Homo sapiens: one gene and its partners. The protein of the gene in region 3 purifies or fractionates together with the protein of the main gene of each other region. This does not show direct contact. Each region holds a gene or a part of one and is shown on either strand. Other genes may lie near its edges.

What was found. Proteins that work in one complex are often made in the same cells at the same time.
Region 1: the proteins of FADS3 (region 3) and YTHDF1 purify together in Homo sapiens (affinity purification with mass spectrometry; 2 studies listed by BioGRID and IntAct, with this or other methods). This does not show direct contact.
Region 2: the proteins of FADS3 (region 3) and ALG14 purify together in Homo sapiens (affinity purification with mass spectrometry; 2 studies listed by BioGRID and IntAct, with this or other methods). This does not show direct contact.

Annotation. Positions count from the first base shown.
Region 1 is NC_000020.11:63,206,127-63,213,147, forward strand, and holds part of YTHDF1 (YTH domain-containing family protein 1), read right to left. Parts: intron 1-7,021.
Region 2 is NC_000001.11:95,069,947-95,077,622, forward strand, and holds the start of ALG14 (UDP-N-acetylglucosamine transferase subunit ALG14), read right to left. Parts: upstream 3,006-7,676; 5' UTR 2,953-3,005; coding exon 2,817-2,952; intron 1-2,816. UniProt on the Homo sapiens protein: Part of the UDP-N-acetylglucosamine transferase complex that operates in the biosynthetic pathway of dolichol-linked oligosaccharides, the glycan precursors employed in protein asparagine (N)-glycosylation.
Region 3 is NC_000011.10:61,888,534-61,896,231, forward strand, and holds the start of FADS3 (fatty acid desaturase 3), read right to left. Parts: upstream 3,013-7,698; 5' UTR 2,849-3,012; coding exon 2,636-2,848; intron 1-2,635. UniProt on the Homo sapiens protein: Mammals have different sphingoid bases that differ in their length and/or pattern of desaturation and hydroxyl groups.

The sequences.
Region 1 (7,021 bases), on a different chromosome or scaffold from region 3:
AGGGAAGCCAGCCCTCCTCCTCCCATTAGCTGGACACGTGCTCCTCAGCAGCGCTGCAATCACAACACATCTTCCTTCCACGCAAAAAGAGCAGATGGGAAAAAAAGACCTCGATGGCTGTGTGGTATTCTAATCCACTTGGCCCCAACACCAACCAGAGGAGTCAGGCCACAGAAACAGATGCCCAGGGACACTTCTGACTTACACCTAAAGCCTTAACTAAGACAGGACATCACTTACCACATGAAAAAATCCACATTACATGAGGCATGTAACATTCCTGAAAATCCGTTTTAAGTATTAAATGGACACACCTAGCACACACGCTGCACAGACAGAGAGCCCATAAATGACCCATCCAGCTTCCCTCTACCCAAGGTGCAGGGCCTGCAGTTCTAGCCAGTACTCTGCAAATCCTTCAGCTCCAGATCACCACCATTCACATCCTGAGCCACAGAAGACGGTGACGCTAATCAGCTCTGCTGGCAGCCCTAAACCCTCCTGATACTTTCTGTGCTCACCGGGTTCCACGGCCACACAGGCAGGCTGGATACAGTGACCTGGGGTTCTGTGGGCCGGATTTCCATTTTTACCTCAATCTCACTGACAGCCCATTTCCTATTACATCTGCCATCTTTCCTCCAAAACTCTGAAGGTAAAGAAGCAGGTTAATTTGTAAAGCTATGTGAAGTCAGTCATTCTGTACATAAGAAAACCTGGAGATGCTGTCCTCTGCCTTCTTTATGAGCCACATGTCAGGCTGCTGCCCCACACTCCTTCCCTGGTGAGGGAAGCTGTCCCATTCACAGTCCTGGTCACAGTGCGTGGGAGACAACTGGAAACGCACAGTTCGGGCTGCCTGGAAAACACATGCAGCCTCCTTTCAGGGCCTTTGATCTCCCTTTGTCTCCCGCACAGCCAGGCACAGGTTCAGCGCTCACTCGCTGCCAAGTGCTGGAGGCGAGCTGTGCTGCTCCCTCAACATTCCTTAGTGCCACGGCTCCATGGGCACTGAGTTATGAGTGTGAAAGTTTACTTCTCAGGGATACAGCTGCATTAACCCCGGGCACGGTGACTCATGCCTGTAATCCCAGCACTTTGGGAGGCTGAGGTGGACGGATCACAAGGTCAGGAGATCAAGACCATCCTGGCTAACACTGTAAAACCCCCCTCTCTACTAAAAACACAAAAAATTAGCCGGGCGTGGTGGTGGGTGCCTGTAGTCCCAGCTACTCAGGAGGCTGAGGCAGGAGAATGGCGTGAACCCGGGAGGCGGAGCTTGCAGTGAGCCGAGATCGAGCCACTGCACTCCAGCCTGGGTGACAGAGCAAGACTCTGTCCCCCCCACCCCCCTCCAAAAAAAAGAACAAATTCAAAGCTTGTTCTTAACACATTACTACCTCTGAGCAAGCATATTTTGGTCCTCGTAAATGAGTGGCATAAACAGATCTTTTAAGGACAATACAAGCAAAACCATGATCCTGTTACTCTGCAGCCGCCTCCACAGAAGACTGCTGAACACTTCCACATGCTAGGCGCCTCACTGCAGCCCCTGCGGAGAACTGACGACCTCATCGAAGAAAGGCTAACACATTTTTAGCCGGGCACAGTGGCTCTGGCCTGTAATCCCAGCACTTTGGGAGGCCGAGGCAGGTGAATCACAAGGTCAGGAGTTCGAGACTAGTCTGATCAATATGGTTAAACCCCGTCTCTACTAAACCGGGTATGGTGGCAGGCACCTGTAGTCCCAGCTACTCCGGAGCCTGAGGCAGGAGAATCGCTTGAACCTGGGAGGTGAAGGCTGCCATGAGCCAAGATCACGCCACTGCACTCCAGCCTGGGTGACAGAGTGAGACTCCGTCTCAAAAAAAAAAAAACAAAAACAAACAAAAAAGAACTAAGAGCAGTTTTACATATTTACTCAAATTTAACCACATTAAAAAAAAGAAACTTCCATCCGAATGACCAGAACCATTTAAGTTGAAGTTCAATGGTTAAGTTTACTTCCTATATCCATTTTTCTGAGATGGAGTTGGAATGACCAAAAGGAGAGACTAGAGGGAGAAGCAGAAAGGATCCCTTCAGAAGCCCAAGAGGAACAGAGAGAAGCATTTGCTTAATAAAAACAAACAAACAAAACAAAATAATTAATTATGTAAAATGGAAAAGTATTAAGGGTACTGCTGAAAAGTGAGGGAGTGATATGGCTCCTGGGAAGCAGCTCTGACCCAGGACTGGGAACAGGCCTACCAGGATGACCTGTTCTTCAGGAGAAGCCTTAGGGAGCACAGAGAAAATGTTAGAGGAAAATAACCGAAAAACCCTAATTTACTTACTTGGCTGCTCACTTTTCAGATCTGTTTTCAGGACTGGTCCCTCTGAGGCTGCAATTTCAGCCCCTCAGCTGGTGGCATCAATATGCAGAGACAGCAGTTTCTGACAGAATTTCTGCATTTGTTTCAGCAACTTGCCAGTAAGAAGCACGTTAAGATCCCACTATGTCCTTCCAGCTGCGTTTCTGGGAAGCCGTTGTGATGGCAAATGCCTACTTAGCAGGCGCTGCCACTGGGTATTTTAAGGAAGCCCATATTTTTAGATGCAGCCACAAGAAACTGACACTCCCCTGCTGGCCCTCAGGTCACCCCGGGCCCACCAGAGCTGCCCAGGCACAGCAGGAAGCCCTGTGCCAAGCATCTCCAGGCTGTTCTCAAAGAAGTCCTAGATGCTCTGATGAGGCATTGTGTTCAGTGAAAAAAAACCACCCAAAACCTGATGAGCAATTTCGTCACTGTGTGATCAGTGTCCTCACACAAACAGAGACGTGTGAGCATGGAGGCAGTATCCTTACCACACACTGAGGCCGTAACCTGTACAGTGTGTAACTGTACTGAATAATGGAAGTAACTGTACATCAATGATAAGTATCTGTGTGTCTAAACATTATCTAAACACAGAAAAGGTACAGTAAAAATACGGTATAAGAAATCAAGAACGGGACACCTGTACAGAGCACTTACGGTGAATGGAGCAGGTAGGCCTGAGTTGCACTGGGTGAGTCAGGGAGAGAATGTGAAGGCCTGGGCCCTCACTGGACACCACTGTCACCTTTAGAAACACCGTCCACTTAACACTACACTCAATTTTTAAATTTTCCTTTCTTCAATAATAAACCCTAGCCTACTATGGCTTTTTTACTTTACAAACTACTTTTTTAAAAGCTTTAAGGTTTTTGACTCTTTTGTAAACACAAATATATCATATAGCTGTACAAAAATTTTTTTTGTTATATCCTTATTCCATAAGCTTTTTTCTATTAAATTTTTTTTAACTTTTTGAACTTTTTTGTTATAAATGAAGACACGGCCAGGCACAGTGGCTCATGCCTATAATCCCAGCCCTCTGGGAGGCCGAGGCAGGAGGACTGCTTCAGCCCAGGATTTCGAGAACAGCCCAGGCAACACAGTGAGACCCCATCTCTACAAAAAATCAAAAATAAGGCAGGAAGATCACTTGGGCCCAGGAGGTCAAGGCTGCAATGAGTCATGACTGCACTTCCGCCCAGGTGAGGGAGAGACCCTGCCTCAAAACAAAACAAAACAAAAAAACCAAAAACCCAAAAAGACACAAAAAACACATATTAGCCTAGGCCTACACAGGGTCTGGATCTTCCACCTCCACATCTTGCCCCACTGGAAGGTATTCAGGGGCAACAACACACATGGAGCTGTCATCTCCTGTCACACCAATTGCCTTCTTCTGGATTCCTCCTGAAGAACCTGCCTGAGGCTGCTTTACAGTTGACTTTGTTTCTAGTAAGTAGGCAGAATATGCTCTTAAAAGTATAGCAAATACACAAAGTAGTAACAGTCGTTTATCATCAATTATTACGTACTGTATGGTACTGTACGTAACTGTAGGTGTATACTCTGGTATGACTGGGGCAGTAGGTTTGGTCACACCTACTGCAGCACCACAGACACGAGTAATACACTGCCCTCAACATGGTAGCTCCAACGTCACCAGGTGCCAGGAATTTTTCAGCACCATCATAGTCTTATGGGACCACTATCATATTGTGGTCTGTTGCTGACCAAACTGCATCCGGCAGCACAGGTACAGGCATGCCCAGATGGCCTTGGTAATTTCTGTCAGTGGGATCACAGCAAACACACTCAGTCTGTTGGTCAGGGAGTGTGCAGGAAGCCTGGGGGGCCAGCGGCATCTATTCCCAACTCAGGCATCATGCCAAGACAGTGTCTTCTAAACTCTGAGTAGGAACTGTTCTGGGTCATTTCACAGTCTTTCCTTTCAGAAAACAACAGAGAACTGGGAAACCAGAAGTCCCCGAGCAGGAAAAGCCTCAAAAGAGAGAATCGGCGGGGCACTGTGGCTCATGCTTGTAATCCCAGCACTGTGGGAGGCTGAGGCAGGGGGATCACCAGAGGTCGGGAGTTCGAGACCAGCCTGACCAACATGGAGAAACCCCGTCCCTACTAAAAATACCAAAAAAAATTAGCCAGGCGTGGTGGCGCGTGCCTGTAATCCCAGCTACTCGGGAGGCTGAGGCAGGAGAATCACTTGAGCCAGGGAGGTGGAGGCTGCAGTGAGCTGAGATCGCGCCACTGCACTCCATCCTGGGCAACAAGAGCGAAACTCCATCTCAAAAAACAAAAAAAGAGAGAAAATCACAACAATCAAGCCCAACCCAGAGCCCTTCACTCCCAGTTCCTCTGCTCCCCCAACTCCCATTCAAGTCACAGACTAGAAGACAGATACTGAGCGGCTACAGTCGCAAGCGCCTCAGGGGCAACTAGGACTGAAACTCTAGCACCAGAAGCACAGCAAGGCGGGTGAGGCCTCTCTGAGGGAAGGACCCCCACCACACGGCAACAACCCCTCACAGCCCATTACAAGTTAAACCAACCTAACAGGCAGGCATTCTCCTAAGACTTTCTAAACCATTCTAAGTATGACAGTTTCACACAAAACACGGTAGCCTCCAACTGGCTACTACAAACCATATCTAGATTTTTCTCTTTTAAGTACCCAGGGTTAGGTTGGGCACTAGTGGCTCATGCCTATAATCCTAGCACTTTGGGAGGCTGATGCGTGTGGATTGCTTGAGCCCATGAGTTCAAGACCAGCCTGGGCAACACAGCAATATTTCATGTCTACTAAAAATTTAAAAATTAGCTGGGCGTGGTGGCACATGCCTGTAGTCCTAGCTACTTGGGAGGTTGAGGTGGGAGAATCACCTGAGCCTGGGAAGTCGAGGCTGCAGTGAGCCATGATCACATCATGCACTCCAGCCTGGGCAATGGAGTGAGACCCTGTCTCCAACAAAAAAGGACCCAGAGCTATTGATATGCCCACTATCTTAACTGTGGCCATGGCTCCAAAGGTATGTCTGTGTAAATCAAAAGTTATAAAACCATACTGTATACTCTACATATGGAGCTAAGACACCCACTGACATAAAAATAATCGATTTGTAAAGAAATCCTCCCAAACAACACAAAAGCTCCGACTTTATAAAAATATTTTTGGCTGGGCACAGTGGCTCATACCTGTAATCCTAGCACTTTGGGAGGCCAAAGCAGGAAGATCACTTGAGCCCAGAAGTTCAAGACTAGCCTGAGCAACACAAAGAGACCCTGTGTCTACAACCAACCAATCAATCAATCACCAGGTGTAGTGGTGCATGCCTGTAGTCCCAGCTATTCAGGAGGCTGAGGCAGGAGGATTGCTTAAGCCCAGGAATTTGAGGCTACAGTGAGCTATAATCATGCCCCTGAACTCTAGCTTGGGTAACAGCAGGACCCTGTCTCCAAAATACACACACACACACACACACACACACACACACACACACACACACACACTTTTAAGTGTACTGATGCAACCTCCCTCCCCCTTTATTGGCTAAAATTCAGTACATAATACCATTAAAGTACTAAAATAATAAGAACACACTAGAAAACAAGAAATTCAAAAAATTAGTTAACTTCCTGCCATTACCTCTATCCAAAGGCCCATCACTAAAGTCAAGTCAGTTCTGCCCAGAGGAAGGGCAGATTCTCAGAAGGCAACCAAGAGACAAGAAACAGAAGCAGGGTCGGAGCGCGGGGCAGCGCTGCCGAGGCTCCACCTGTACAAGGTTTCTTGGTCTCTAAGCTGCTTGATTCGCCAAGTGCAGTAGGAGGGAGGGGGATGAAGGAACATTCTAAGAAGTTCTAAGACACCTCAGAAAAGGGCAGACTAGTTTTATTCCTTCACAGAGAAGAGGTGAAGCCTGGTTTTACTTTAAAGTAAACATGCCCAGTAGCTGAGGGCTACTTGGAGTGGCGGAGGAAGGAATGTGAATCACAGCACACGAAATGGAGCACTCAGAGCATCTGCTTTGTGCTGCCCCATGAGGCCTGCTCACCAAAGTGAGGAGCTCACAGAGGTGCAGCCCCTCATCCAAGCCAACGGCCTGGAGGTAGGAAAGTGAGGCAGGGGAAGTCTGATTCCCGAGTTGGACTCTTAGACATAAACAGATACCGCTTCTCTTGGGAGTTTTGCTGCAACAGCAGCACAGAGGAGAGAGAGCAGCTCCCAGTAGATTTTAACCAGGGCAACTGTATCCCCCAAAAAACATCCACCAAGACAGTTTTGCTTGCTACAACTGGGGATGGGGAGAAGGAGTTGCTAATGGCATCTAGTGGGTGGGAAGCCAGGGAGGCTGCTAAACATCCAACAATGCACAGGACAGCCCCCAAAACAGAATGTTCCCGTGCAAAATGTCCACAGTGCCAAGGCAGAGAAAGCCTGAATTACCTAAGAAAACAGGGCAGCTATGACTCACTGGGCCCTGCTGTATCAGGTACTGTCTCAGCGCTTTATGTGCACCATCTGATGTCATCCTCCCAACAATTCTACAAACAGTTACTACTCTCTCTCTTCTACAGAAAAGGAAATTGAGGCAAGAGAAGGCAAGCCATGGACACAGGCCAGTCAGTGGTGGAGTTAAAATTGAAAC
Region 2 (7,676 bases), on a different chromosome or scaffold from region 3:
TTTAATCCCAGCGCTTTGGAAGGCAGGAGAATTGCTTGAGGCCAGGAGTTCAAGACCAGTCTGGCACACATAGCAAGACACCATCTCTATTTTTAAAATTAATTAATTAAATTAAAAAAATTATCTGATCTACCTTGTTTGACGGTAGGTCATAAGACCCCCATTCCAGAGAGGGCCCTACCCCACATCCAGAAGGAAAGGAATGCATGCTCAGAGAGACCAAGAAAAATCTAGACAGGCCTTGCTGGGCTTCCCTACTGTCTATTAGCATTAAATTATACCCTTTTGTCCAGTCATAATTCTACATGGCTGTCCATACTTTGCTGAACCTAAGCATAAAAACAGACCATTTCCCTTGTATCTCTGGGTCTTCATTCAGAACACTTTCATATATGCTTCATAAATTTGTATGCCTTTTCTCCTATTATTTCTGCCTCATCAGTGATTTTCAGTGAAACTTCAGAGGGCAAAAGGGAAGTTTCCCCTTGGCCCTTACAGTAGCCAACCAAATCTTGTATCTGTATGTTGGCCTTTGTATGGAAAATATTGTAATTTTGTTCAGCATCTCTGTTCTTGCGTATACAAACTACCTTCATTCTTCCCCACATGGGGAGCACTGATTACATTCTTTGGTATAGGTTTGCTCCCCAGACACCCAATCTCACGCTTTGTGCTTGAATAAACTCTTCTAACTGGATATTGAGCCCTTTGATTATTTTAGGTTGACACTATATGTCAAGCACTTTACTGAACACTTTATTTTTTAATTTAAGCTTTTGATTATATCATTTTATTTTATTTCATTTTGAGACAGGGTCTCACTCTGTCAACCAGGCTGGAGTGCAGTGGCACAATCTCAGCTCACTGCAACCTCCACCTCCCAGACTCAAGTGATCCTCCTACCTCAGCCTCCCAAATAGCTGGGACTATAGGTGCATGCCACCACATCCACCTAATTTATTTATTTATTTTAATGTAGAGACAGGGTTTCACTATGTTGCCCAGGCTGGTCTCCAACTCCTAAGCTCAAGCAATCCGCCTGTATCGGCCTCCCAAATTGCTGAGATTACAGGTGTGAACCATCACGCCCGGCCTAAACACTTTAAATATGATCCTATTTAATCTCTCCTGTCCTCTCTCAACCCATGTAGAAACAGAAGGTTCAGCGAGGTTAACTAATTGCCTGAGATCCCCAAGGTAGTAAGTGGCAGAAATGTGATTCATGTGTGGTGTTATGACAACCTAGAGGCCTGTGGTCTTAACCCCTACATGATATCAACAGTGGAGTAGCAGCAATTGCTTTATAAAGCAGGATTTTAGGCCAGGGGTGGCTCACGTCTGCAACCCCAGCACTTTGGGATGCTGAGGCAGGAGGATCACTTGAGGTCGGAAGTTCAAGACCAGCCTTGGTCAACATGGTGAAACACTGTCTGTACTAAAAATACAAAAATTAGCTGAGTGTGGTGGTGCGCCTGTAATCCCAGCTACTCGGGAGGCTGAGGCAGGAGAATGGCTTGAATTTGGGAGGTGGAGTTGCAGTGAGCTGAGACTGCGCCACTGCCCTCCAGCCTGGGCAACAGCGTGAGACTCTGTATAAAAAAGAAAAAAAGCAAGATTTTAAATACTCTTTACAATCTGGACTCAGTTTACCTCCCTACATTGAACTCTACACGATAGTGTTCTCTCAACTCTGGTCATTCCAAGTGTTATCACCTTCTTTTCACATCCTCCCAGCCCTCGAAACCCTGGCTGTCCCTCATCTGACTAATTCTGGGTCATCTTTCAAGTTTCAGTTTAGCATCATTTCTTCCAGGAAGCTGTCTGTTTTTTAAGACCTGATAAAGTAGTGCCCTTCCTGAAGACTGCCATAGCAATTTGTACTTCTTACACAATTATTACAAGATTATAGCATTTATCTCATTGTGGCAAATACTCATTTTGATTTATTTTCTGTTAGTTTTTTTGTATTCTCTATTTCATTTACTGCTGTATCTTTGCATCTCTCACAGGACTTAGCACGGAGTCAGCACTCCGTGGCAAGTAATGTTAGTCAGTTTTGTTATTTCCAGAGGTTAGTTTAGTGTTTGGTCTTTCTAACAGCTCAAAACAGATTAAGTGAATAAAGTAATGCGTTATACTTGAACATAAACTTAGTACATTTACTCATACTATACATGTTCTATCTGGATGCAATCTCCTGCCATACCCAAATGTTTACATTGTGTCTGTGTGTGTCTGTCTGTCCCTGTCAAATATGTGTATTTAAAATTGTAAGCACCTACAGAGTTGGTGGATTTAGATTGTATTACCTGACAGGTCAGTGTGTTGCTCACACTCTGCCACCGCGTGTGTATTGTTCTACAGCCCGTAGATCATTGTTTTTATCCTCTTGGACTTTGTATATTTATAAATGTGACAATTCATTTTGCCTCATTTGTCATGTAGCATTCGTGTTTCCTAAACTAAATACGCAATACCTAGATTAATAATGCACAACAGCCATACGGGGAAACTGCATGTTTGCATCAAAAGGCTTCTACGTTCTCTGTTCACTAATTGTTTGAAAAATATACGCTACAGAGAGTCTTAATTATAGACAAGTGTAAATTACTTGTCATAAAAAAAACCTCTGGGCCGCGTCAGCAAACCAGCCCCTACCCTGGCTGGACTGCCCGGTTCCGGCAAGGCAGAGAAACTACAAATCTCTGCATGCAACACTCCAAGAAGTGCTAAGGGTACCAGGGAAGAGCGTCGCGGTGCACTCTGGGGTTTGTAGTGACCAACCCAAGTCCGACAGTCGCCTCCTCGATACTTACCGGACCCAGCCACTACCAAGATACTGAGAGACTCCCGGGGCGTAACGTCCATGGAACGAAGCACTACCCATATTCGCAGGATTAGGAAAACCGCCACAGCTCCTGCGGCCGCAGCTAGAACGAGAACGCACACCATGCAGAGAAACGGCGCATGCGTCCAACTTCCGGGGACCAGCCGCTGTCAAAGTTCACAACTACGGGTGCCGAAGCGACTCAAACGCGGAGGACGCACGTCTTGGTGGGCTGGTCTTTCCTGAGCTGGGAGGAGTGGAGGCGACGGAGAAGCTGAGGTCCCAGTCACAATCCATTTTACCTCATTTATCATGTAGTATTCGTGTTTCCTAAACTAAATACGCAATACCTAGATTAATAATGCACAACAGCCATACAGGGAAACTGCATATTAGCGTTAAAAGGTTTCTACGTTCTGTACGTTCACGTTTGTCAGCGGAACCCCTGCTTCTGCGCGGATTGTGCGCAGCTGCAGCCAAGCGTAAGCTGAAAATTGTAAAGTTAAGCGCTGGGGAAGCTTGATTTACGCCCACGACGAGGTCAGGCAGTCTCTGCGCCCTAAAGGTCCCGAAACTCCCCAGTTAGGAGGTGTTCTGGCTCTGTCAACTTCGTGAATGCCACCTGAAGCTAAGGGAATACATCCTTTCTTTCTTTCTTTTTTTTTTTTTAATGCCAAGAGAAATGTTTCTGTTGCACACAGACATTACTGAAAGTGTTCGCCAGTAAGGACCCTAGGCTTAAACATCGAATTTAGGGCCCTCATCCAAACCCCCTGTCTCCCAACATGTATGTTTTTAACTTTTCTCGAGGTTTTCACAGCTCTCAGTGTGACCAGAGTAGTTGAGGGTGACCACCTAAAGGTAAGCCACACTCCTAAGAGGATTGCAAAGCTCAGTGGCTCTAGGTAGCAGGATAGACAAGGCACAGTCCTACAATTAATATTCAGTTAATTTTATCACAAAGCATTTCCAGTGTGTTTCTCATGTCCTCAGCCAAAATGATGATCTGCCAACACCCCCTTCAATCTCAATTTTGCTTATGTCTAATTAATTAATTGTTAATAAATTAATTATGTCTAATTAATCCACATTACGACAACATAAAATACTAAGATCAGGAGCCCCTTCACCCCAAATATAATTTGCCTTCGGTCCACCATAGACCTACCTGTAGGTTATATTGAACAGGTATACAGATGAGTAAAAAGGTTCAGAAAGGTGCAACTGCTTGCCCAAGTGGAATAGCGTCAGATCTAGAATCAGAAACCAGAAATCTGAGTCCTGCTGGACAGGAGTACTGCATCCTGTATTCCTTTGCTAAATTCAAACTTGCCTGATCACCACACTTACCTGGAGCCTAGAATGTGTTATTAAAGGTGCAGACTCCCAGGGTCCATTAGGAAACACTGAATCAGAATTTCCGGGGATCGGGCACCTGGGATTAGCTTATGTAACCAGCGTGTCCATTCCTATCAGCAAGCAAGTTTGGGAGACTTTGTGAGTAGAGTCCGTGGACCTTACAACACTTTCCAAATTGTCTTCCATCAAATCTTCTTTCTTTTCTTTTCTTTTCTTTTTTTTTTTTTTTGAGACAGAGTCTCACTCTGTCGCTTGGCTGGAGTGCAGTGGCACAATCTTGGCTCACTGCAACCCCCACCTCCCAGGTTCAAGCGATTCTCCTGCCTCAGCCTCCCAAGTAGCTGGGACTACAGGCATGCACCACCATGCCTGGCTATTTTTTTTTTTTTTTTTTTTAGTAGAGACAGAGTTTCACCATGTTGGCCAGGCTGGTCTCGAACTCCTAACCTCAGGTGATCTGCCCGCCTCTACCTCCCAAAGTGCTGGGATTACAGGCATGAGCCACTGCGCCCGGCTCCATCAAATCTTCTTAACTATACATTCTCGCAGTAAGACCTTAAAGTGGATATTAGTTCCCTTTTTACAGACAAAGAAGTAGATTCCATAAAAGTTAAATAATTTGCCTAAGTCTACTTAGCTAGTAAGGGTGGAGAAAGTTCATAGTTGTGGACTTAGAAGTCAGTGTCTCTCAAATTTTAATGGAATCAGAATTCTCTGGGCTTACAAATGCGTAGTTGGAAGTCCAGAGGTAGGGTCTTTGGTGTAGTAAGAAAAACAGCTCAAGGATAATACAAGGAGTATCATTTACTTGTATATGCCCACTCTGCCATTCCTAATAATGTCTTCAACCTGAAACAGTCTTACCTGATACTTAAGACACTAGTGGTCCCAGAATGGGATGTGTGGATGGTTACATCCAACAGGGCAATCTCCATAGCCAAAAAAGAGGTTATCTTGTCGGGTCTTTTTTGCCCCTCCCCCCCAGTCTTGCTCTGTGGCACGGTCTCGGCTCACTGCAACCTCCACCTCTGGGATTCAAGCAATTCGCCTGGCTTAGCCTCCCAAGTAACTGGGACTACAGGTATGCGCCACCACACCCAGCTAATTTTTGTATTTTTAGTAGAGACGGGGTTTCACCATGTTGGTCAGGTTGGTCTTGAACCTGACCTCATGATCCGCCCACCTCAGCCTCCCAAAGTGCTGGGATTATACGGGTGAGCCATGACGCCCGGCCTGCTTTATTTTTTATTTTTTTAAAGGCAAGGAAACTTATTCTAGAACCCCTCACAGCAGACTTTCTTTCACTCCTTTTGGCCATACTTATATCACTTTCCCAGGCATAAAAGGAAAGCGACTTCAAAGCTGGTGGAGGTGGGAGGAGGATGATCTACAACTCACCTGTAATACATGGCTGTTGGATGGAGGGTGGGTACTGAACAAAATAGGCATTCTCTCAGTGAGGAGGAAGCTGCAGGGAGGGTTGTTGGGTAGGCAAACAATAGCATCTAGATTGCTGTGATGATGATGTGTCTGAAACAGCTTTGTAAACTGACACATGCAATGAAAATGTCAGGCATATGATAATTACTTAGCTCCAGGCCCCAAGCTCTATATTAAGGTAGATTTAATACTTGGAGGACACCCTTGCATTTCCCATTACTTCATCCCCTCACTATTATAATTACCTATATCTGTAGGAAATATTAGTTTGACCACACTTGGCATGTAGCTGGAATGAATGGAAGCAATCAAACATTGGGGGCTTGCAAGGAAATGCAGAGAATCAAAGAGGGTGGGGTACCAGACATTGTTTGGACTTATTGGTTGAATTATTCTGAATTAAGGTGATCATAAAACTCTTTAGTTTTCCTGCCAAGAAAGTTGAGAACTGCAGGGAGCAGCTAGGTAGCAGGCAGGGACAGGAACATAGCTGAGAATTCCTGCCAAAAATGTCACCTGGGTAAGCCAAGTCCTGGGCTGTGACAGACACAGAATGTATAGATAATCAAGAAGTCAAGAAGCTGTAGTGGGCCAGGCATGGTGGCTCATGCCTGTAATCTCAGCAATCTAGGAGGCCAAGGCAGGAGGATCACTTGAACCTCAGAGTTTGAGACCAGCCAAGGCAACAGAGTGAGACCCTATCTCTGTAAAAAATTAACCAGGCATGATGGTGGTGTGTACCTGTAGTCCCAGCTACTCAGGAGGCTGGGGTGGGAGGTTTGCTTAAACCCAAGAGATCAAGGCTGCAGTGAGCCATATTTGCACTACTGCACTCCAGCCTGGGTGACAGAGACCCTGTCTCAAAAAAAAAAAAAAAAAAAAAAAAAAAAAAAAGGCCAGGTGCGGTGGCTCATGCCTGTAATCTCAGCACTTTGGGAGGCTGAGGAGGGTGGATCAGCTGAGATCGGGAGTTTCAGACCAGCCTGACCAACATGGAGAAACCCCGTCTCTACTAAAAATACAAAATTAGCAGGGCATGGTGTCACATGCCTGTAATCCCAGCTACTCAGGAGGCTGAGGCAGGAGAATTGCTTGAACCCGGGAGGGGGAGGTTGCAGTGAGCTGAGATCGTGCCATTGCACTCCAGCCTGGGCAACAAGATCGAAACTCTGTCTCAAAAAAAAAAAAAAAAAGCTATAGTGGATTAATCAGGAAAGTTAAGACTGAGTGAGAAGAAGCAACAATTAAAATTTCTCTTGGGAAGATGAGTTGCGCTGACAGTACATTTAACAGATTCATGGAAGTAAATTATAGTGCTGCAAAAAGCATGAAAACTATGTTAATAGTTGACAAAATGAATAACGATATGTGGTCTATAACCAGTCATAAGTAAAGCATGTCTGGGAGGTGATTTTTTTTTTTTTTTTTCTGAGACAGGGTCTCACTCTGTCACCCAGGTTGGCATGCAGTGATGCGCTCTCAGCTCACTGCAGCCTCAACCTCCCTGGGCTCGGGAGATGCTCTCACCTCAGTGTCCCAAGTAACTGGGACTACAGGTGTATGCCACCATGCATGGCTAATTTTTGTATTTTTTGTAGAGTCAGGGTTTTACCACATTGCCCAGGCTGGTCTCAAACTCCTGAACTCAGGCAATCCACCCGCTTCAGCTTCCCAAAGTGCTGGGAGTACAGGTGTGAGCCACGTAGCTCAGCCTGGGAGGTGATTTTTATTCTCTTCTTTTTTTTTTTTTTTTGAGACAGAGTCTCACTCTATCGCCCAGGCTAGAGTGCAATGGCGCGATCTCAGCTCACTGCAACCTCCGTCTCCAGGGTTCAAGCCATTCTCCTCGCTCAGCCTCCTTAGTAGCTGGGATTATAGGCGCCTGCCACCACATCCGGCTAATTTTTCGTATTTTTAGTAGAGACGGGGTTTCACTATGTTGGCCAGGCTGGGCTCGAACTCCTGACCTCATGATCTGCCCGCCTCGGCCTCCCAAAGTGCTGGGATTACAGGCATGAGCCACCACACCTGGACAATTTTTATTCTCCTC
Region 3 (7,698 bases):
TTGAGGGAGCTAAGAGACAGCCTAAAGTGTCCCTTTCCTACTTCAGATAGGACCGTAACCAAATAAGGTCACCCAGGAAAGGGGTAGCCGTGCAGGGCTGTCCCACCATACGCTGCAGTTTGCAGGGCACGCTCACACTTAGGGGCCAGCAGCATTTACCGAATACAAACTACTACCTGGCAGCCCTGGGCCATGGGCTTGAGGAGACACAGTCCTGCCCTCAGCCAGCTCACTGTCTGCCCCAGCTCTCCCACTTTACAGATGAGTAAACTGGGGCACAGAGGAGTGACATGCCTGCTTCAAGGTCGCTCAGTGCCTCCAATAGCAGAGCTGGCACCCGGCCCCAAGGAGCAGAGAGATGTTTTTTGTTTGTTTGTTTGAGACGGAGTTTTGCTCTTGTTGCCCAGGCTGGAGTGCAATGGCGCGATCTCGGCTCACCGGAACCTCCGTCTCCTGGGTTCAAGCGATTCTCCTGCCTCAGCCTCCCAAAGTGCTGGGATTACAGGCATGCGCCACCACGCCTGGCTAATTTTGTATTTTTTTAGAAGAGACAGGGTTTCTCCATGTTGGTCAGGCTGGTCTCAAACTCCCGACCTCAGGTGATCTGCCCACCTCAGCCTCCCAAAGTGCTGGGATTACAGGTGTGAGCCACAGCGCTCGGCCTGAGATGTTTTTAAAACAGATATTATTGGCTGCGAATCAATGAGAAAACTGTGTGATGGAAGTCTCAGGATCCCAAGCTAAATGTTAAGTCAGTAATTCCACTTGGGAGGAACCCCAGCATGGGCCTGGCACCAGGCAGGAAACAGTGATGAAATAAAAGCTTTCTGTATCCCAGCCGGGCGTGGTGGCTCACGCCTGTAATCCCAGCGCTTTGGGAGGCCGAGGTGGGTGGATCACGAGGTCAGGAGTTCGAGACCAGCTTGGCCAACATGGTGAAACCCCGTCTCTACTAAAAATACAATATGCTGGGCGTGGTGGCGCGTGCCCGTAATCCCAGCTACTCGGGAGGCTGAGGCAGGAGAATCGCTTGAACCTGGGAGGCGGAGGTTGCAGTGAGCCAAGATGGCGCCATTGCACTCCAGTCTGGGTGGCAGAGCAAGACTCTGTCTCCGGCGGTTGGTGGGGAGTAAAGTTTTCTGTATCCATACTGTCCTCTAGGTTACAAAAGACTAGAGCAGGCCGGGAGTGGTGGCTCATGCCTGTAATCCCAGAACTTTCGGAGGCTGAGGCAGGAGGAATGCTTGAACCCAGGACTTTGAGACCAGCCCGAGCAACATAGTGAGACCCTGTCTCTATTTTTAAACAAATAATAATAAATAAAATAGATACTTTTTTAGAAAAAGACCAGAGCAGGCATCCACAAGACTCCTTGAAGGGAGGCCAGGGCTCAGCAAGGCCTTTGGGGAGAAGCCGTGCCCCTCACCTCGCCACGCCCTGGCAGAAAGGCAGGCACACACACCACACTCACCCAGACATGCAAACACCTGCACGCTCAAATACTGCCCCCAGGCTGCTTCATCCCACGGCTGTGCTGTCCCCTCGGGCCAGCGTCTGGCGCCTGAACAGCCACGGACAAGGCGTTCTCTTTTTTTTTTTTTTCTTTTTTTAGAATTTCAGGAGGATTCTTATTCTCACTCCTCAGCTTCATGGGGTGGAAGGGGAAAAGAGGGGCTTTCTTCCTCAAAGAGTCCAGTGAAGATTGTCCAACATGCTGGAGATGGCAATCGGCAGAGAGCAGGTGGCCCTGTCAAGAGGGACGCCGACAGTCCTGGGACTGGACAGAACCTCCGCTGCTGCCCAAAAAGCCAGCATTCAGGATTCATGTCCTCGGGTCTTGAAGACCTTCCTGATACCCAGTGTGGCCAACCTAGAAATTTGGAGGGTCAAGGACAGGGCATCGTGGCCCCAACCCCTATTATGCAGGTGGGTAACTAAGGAAAAGGGGCTGGTCGGGCTGCTCCACCACTGGACTCCAGCCAGACAGTACCCTGGGGCCAGGCTACATCCCTGCCTGTCTAGACAGGGGCTGGGATTGGGAAGTTGGGGTCCCCAGGGGCCAGCCTGTTCCTGGGGTGACTGTGCTTCCAGGAGAGGCCCACCCAGCCTGGCTGGCAAAGCCCTCCCACGTGCAGCTGCTAGCCCGGAGAGGTGAGTCACTGTCCCTGAGCCCTTTACAGAAGCTCTTGGGAAAGCCACAGACCTCAGGCCGGCCCAGCCCCCAGCCTCTAATGGCATGTCCTTACCGGCCCCTGGGGACCCTGCCCTGCCCTACCCCTAGCACTCAGCAAGCACCCAGCATGGGGACCCAGAACTGAAACAGGGACCTGGGAGCAACAGGGCAGCCCCTCACCCAGGGCAGGCTCTGCAGCATGACACACCCACCTCTGAGGCCCCCTCCTCCCCCGCAGACCTGCTCCGTGGACAGCTGCGGGTCCTCCACGCAGGGAACTGCCCTCCCTACCCCACATCTGGCCCTGGCTAGTCCACCCCAACTCTGGGTCCCGGCGTGGAGGTCAAAGGTCAGCGAGGGGAGGGAGGATGCTAAGGCCCCACAGGTGGAGCGGGACATCACGCCCACGACCGAGCTCCAGGCTCCACCCGCCGGTGGGTGGCTTCCTTATGGCTTCCTTACCGTGGCGTCCTCAGCGCCGTGGTGGCCGATGAGGCGGCTGCCCCCTGGGTGCCGCTGTGCCCAGCGGCTGATGTCGTAGACGCGGCGCTCGATGACCAGCCACTTGTCGCCGGGCTGGTCGTGCGCGCGGATCTGCTCCCAGCAGAAGGTGGGCAGCGGCGCCCCCGGCTGCGCGGGTCCCTCCCGCGGTCCCGGCTCCCCGACGCCGCCCATGCTGCACGCACGAGTCCTGGGGATCCCAGGCGGTGGCCGAGGTCCGAGCAAGACCCCGAGGGAAGCGAAGAGCGCTCCCGGGCGCCGCCTCCGCCGCCGCCCGCTGCTCCGGCCCCGCCCTGCCGCCGCGGCCGCCGTACGAGCGAGCGTGCGCCTCCCGGCTCGCGGCGCAGGGAACTCCCCGCCTTATAACCGCGCGGACGGCGCCCGCCTCGCCTCGCCTGCCCCCCCGCCCCCGGCCAGGCCCCGGCCCCCAAGGCTGGCTGACCCCCCGCGTCCGCTCCAATCCAGGCGCGGGGCCTCGGTCTCCATTGGCCGCCAGGGAGGGCGGCGTCGAGGCGGCCCGCCCCTCCCGGGAGGACAGCGGCCGCCACCCAGCCCTGCCCCGGGGCACCGTCCCGCCCCCTTTTCCCGGGCTGCCGGCTTCCAGGTTCTTGACTCCACCCGGAGCGCGGGGCCTGGGGACACAACACGCACCTGTTGGGCGTCCCGCAGCGCCTCGCCACGCCCTCGGGAACCGGAGGCGGAGTCCCGGTCTGTGAGCAGCGGGGCCTGGGGGGCTTCCAGCCGCGCGTCCTGCAACGTCAAATCCAGTGCGCCCAGAGGGGGGACGCTGTCTCGGGGTGCCTGTGAACAGCCTTCAAACCATGGGCCCCAATCTCTGCGGGGCCCCCACCGCCGCTGCAGCTCTCTCGGAGCCCTCTGCTGGGGGCGGGTGGCCTCCCCTCCGCCCTCGGCGCTGCAGGGCTGGGGATGCCCAGGGGTGGCCAAGGGGGAGGTAGGGGAGCAGGAGGGCACTGGCGCGTGGAGGCGGGCGCTGCCATCCATGGGCTGAGGACACCTGTGCTTGTTACTGCTTCCCCGCCCCTCTTTTTTGTTTTGAGACAGGAGTCTCACTCTGTCGCCCAGGCTGCAGTGTAGTGGCATGATGTCGGCTCACTGCAGCCTCAACATCCTAAGCTCAGGAGATACCCCCACCTCAGTCTCGGGAGTCCCCAGCTGGGACTACAGGCGCGCCCCATCATACCCGGCTAATTTTTGGTGTTATTTTATTTTTGTAGAAATGGGTCTTGCCATGTTGCCCAGGCTGGTCTTGAACTCCTGGACTCAAGTGACCCTCCCGCCTCCCAAAATGCTGGGATTACAGGCATGAGCCACTGCACCCGGGCCCCATCCGCTTTTTTTAATTTAAATACATTCAAGTCCTTTTGAAAGTGTAGGTAGCTCCCCTAATTGCTTCGGATTTCTTTGTGATAAATATACCTGTTCCTAAAAGTTAAGCGTTCACAGCAGCAAGGAATTCAAATCAGGCTAAAGTTACTTCCAGAGCGCTGGTCGTCAATCTTCCATCAGAACCACCTGAAAGGCTTCCATCAGAACCACCCAGGAGGGTTATTCGGTGGGTCTGGTGTGGAGGCAGAGACTTACATGGCCAGTTCACAGGTGATGCTGACCGGCTGGTTGGGGAAATGCACTTAGAAAACCCTAAGTATATTTCTCTGATATGCTAATATTTTGTCTTGGTCTAAAGAGGACCAGTATCCCCAGAAGGGCAGAGGGGGCGAGTTCTCCCTGGTACCAGGAGCTCCTGCCTTTGCTTGTCAGGACATCCAGCAAGGCCCATGATGTCATCAGGCACCGGGGCTGCCTGGGCCCTCTCCACTGAGGCACCCACTGACCATATCCTGGAACCCCAACCTGGCACATGTGTGTGGGGGTGCAAGAGCATGGCTGGTGGCCCTGGCCCAAGGGGGCTGCAGGCACCCCTACCCCGTACCATGTTCACACAGCACAGGAATGGAGAAGGCAGATTCTTGAAGGAATGCATCCCCTGCACCAAAATCCACTGAAGGCATGGACCTGGCCCTGGCCCCACCTTCAGCAGCCCTGAGTGGTCAGATGTGGCCATCCTAGGGGCTTCTTCCTTGGAGCCAGCCCTGGCCTGGTCTCAGCCCCTGTGTGTGAGGTGGTTGGGGGTTGTGATAGGTTAGAACCTCCACTTTCCCCAGCTGCCCCCAGAAGAGATGGGGAAGATGAAGGGGGGGCCACAGAATCATGCAAGAGCCGTGAGTGAGGGCAGGGATCACAGCCCTATTGGCCAAGTCCTCCTCGAAGGGATCACTGTGGAGGCCAGGCGGAGCTCCTCAGAATGCTCCTCAGGAAAGAGGGGCTGCACACAAATGGGCAACACACACACGAAAAGGTGCTCAGCATTGCTAATCATCAGAGAGCTGCAAATGAAACCACAATGAAATACTGTCTCACACTTGTTAGGAGGGCTCCTATAAAAAAGAAAAAGGCCTGGAATCCCACCACTTTGGGAGGCCGAGGCAGGAGGATTGCTTGAGCCCTGGAGTTCAAGACCAGCCTCGGCAACATAGCAGGAACCCCGTCTTTAATAAATAAATACATAAATGAAAAAATCATGCCAGGCATGGTGGTTCACGCCTGTAATCCCAGCACTTTGGGAGGATCTCTTGAGCCTAGGGGTTCGAGACCAGCCTGGGCAACATGACAAAACCCTATTTCTACAAAAAAAAAAAAAAAAAAACTAGCAGGGCATGGTGGTGCGTGCGCCTGTAGTCCCAGCTACTTAGGAGGCTGAGGTAGGAGGATCGCTTGAGCCTGGGAAGCAGAGGTTGTAGTGCCCCAAGATCATGCCATTGTACTCCAGCCTGGGCTACAGAGGGAGACCTGGTCTCAAAAAATCAAATCACACGTGTTGGCAATGATGCAGAACCCTTGTGCATTGTGGGTAAGAATGTGAAGTGCTATAGCCAACTATAGAAAAGAGTATGAAAATGGCTTTAAAATGCCTATGATTCAGCAATTCCATTTCTGGGCATATACCCAAAAGAACCGAAAGCAGAGTCTTGAGGAGATATTTGTACATCTATTTTCTTAGCAGCATTATTCACAATGGCCAAGAGGTCATTGTGAGGCAGCACAACTGTCCATCCACAGACACTGGATAAACAAAACGTGGTCAGGCCAGGCGCGGTGGCTCACACCTGTAATCCCAGCACTTTGGGAGGCTGAGGCGGGCGGATCACCTGAGATCAGGAGTTTGAGACCATCATGGCCAACATGGAGAAACCCTGTCTCTACTAAAAATACAAAAATTAGCCAGGCATGGTGGCGCATGCCTGTAATCCCAGCTACTCAGGAGGCTGAGGCAGGAGAAAGGCTTGAACCCAGGAGGTGGAGGTTGCGGTGAGCCGAGATCGCACCATTGCACTCCAGCCTGGAGTAATAATTAATTATAATATAATAAAATTAAAAATAAAAAATAAAACGTGGTCTATGCATACAATGGAATATTATTCAGTCTTAAAAAGGAAGGAAATCCTGTCACATGCTACAACAGATGGACACTGAGGACATGAAGTGAAAGAAGCCAGTAATGAGAGGACAAATACTGCATCATCCACTTAAATGAGGGCCCTCGTGCAGTGAAATTCATAGAAAGTAGAATGGGGGTTGCCTGGGGCTGGGAGGAGGTGGAAATAGAGGGTTGATTAATGGGTACAGAGTCTCAGTTTTGTGAAATGAAAATGTTCTGGAGATGTTTCGGAACACTGTAAATGGACTTAGCACTACTGAACTATACACTTAAAAATGGTTAAGGGAGGGCCAGGCACAGTGGCTCACACCTGTAATCCCAGCACTGTGGGAGGCTGAGGCGGGCGGATCACTTGAGGTCAGGAGTTCAAGACCAGCCTGGCCAACATGGTAAAACCCCGTCTCTACTGAAAAAAAAAAAAAAATTCACACACAAAAAATTAGCTGGGCATAGGGGCTCATGCCTGTAGACCCAGCTACTTGAGAGGCTGGGGCAGGAGAATTGCTTCAACCCGGGAGGCGGAGATTGCAGTAAGCCTAGATTGCGCCACCGCACTCCAGCCTGGGTGACAGAGTGAGACTCCGTCTCAAAACAAAACAAAACAAAAACAACAATTAAAAAAAAAGAGTTAAGGTAGTACAAGTTATGGGTTTTTTACCGTAATAAAATGAAAAAGGCAAGGAGGCTGCGAAAGCCATTTAGTCCTATATTTCCAACTCACAGATGAGGAAACTGAAGCCCAGAGAGGAGCGACTTTGCCCAGGTGCACAGCCCCGGCAGGAGTTCCATCAGGACAGTCTTGGCAGACTGGAAAGCATCCTGCAGGAGTGAAGCACGCCAGTGCGCAGCTGGTCTCGGCTCAGCGCCTCCACCCTCAGAGGCCAGAGTCGTTGCTAGGTTTGAAGAGGGGGCCAAAGAGGGTTAAAATGTTCACATGTGCCAGGGGTACTCAGAGAGGCCCAAGTGGGTTATCTAGAAAATCCATTTAAGAGGAACAACTCCCTCGTGGCTGATGTCGGCTAACCCTCCCCAGCCACCTTTAAGCACATTGCAGGTGTCTAGGAAAGGGAATCCAGGATGCTGGTTCATACTGTGGGCTCCAGGGCTGGCCTCATGATTCCTATCCCGGGGCCATCATTTCCTCTGTGGCACTTCTGTGTGCCTCATTCTACTCATCTGCAAAATGGGAGAATAGTACTCTATAAGGTTGCTGTGAGGATGAAATGAATTAGATCATTTAAAGGGTTTAGAATCATGCCTGGCACAGTCAGTGCTCAGCTATTATCTCTCGTTGGGAGATACTGAGAGTGTATGTCCATCCTCCAGGCATTTCAGTTCTCTGTTTATGACCCCACTTGGGGTCTGACAGCAGGCTATGCCATTGCAGGGGCAGGCAGCGCGGGTCTGGGGTATGGGACCCTCTGCCTGGCCCCTGGAGTGTGGTCTGGTGTCTCCTAGGTCTTCAGTGTTGCTGGGCCAGGAGCACAGAAGCTGGGGGTAGGGTGGA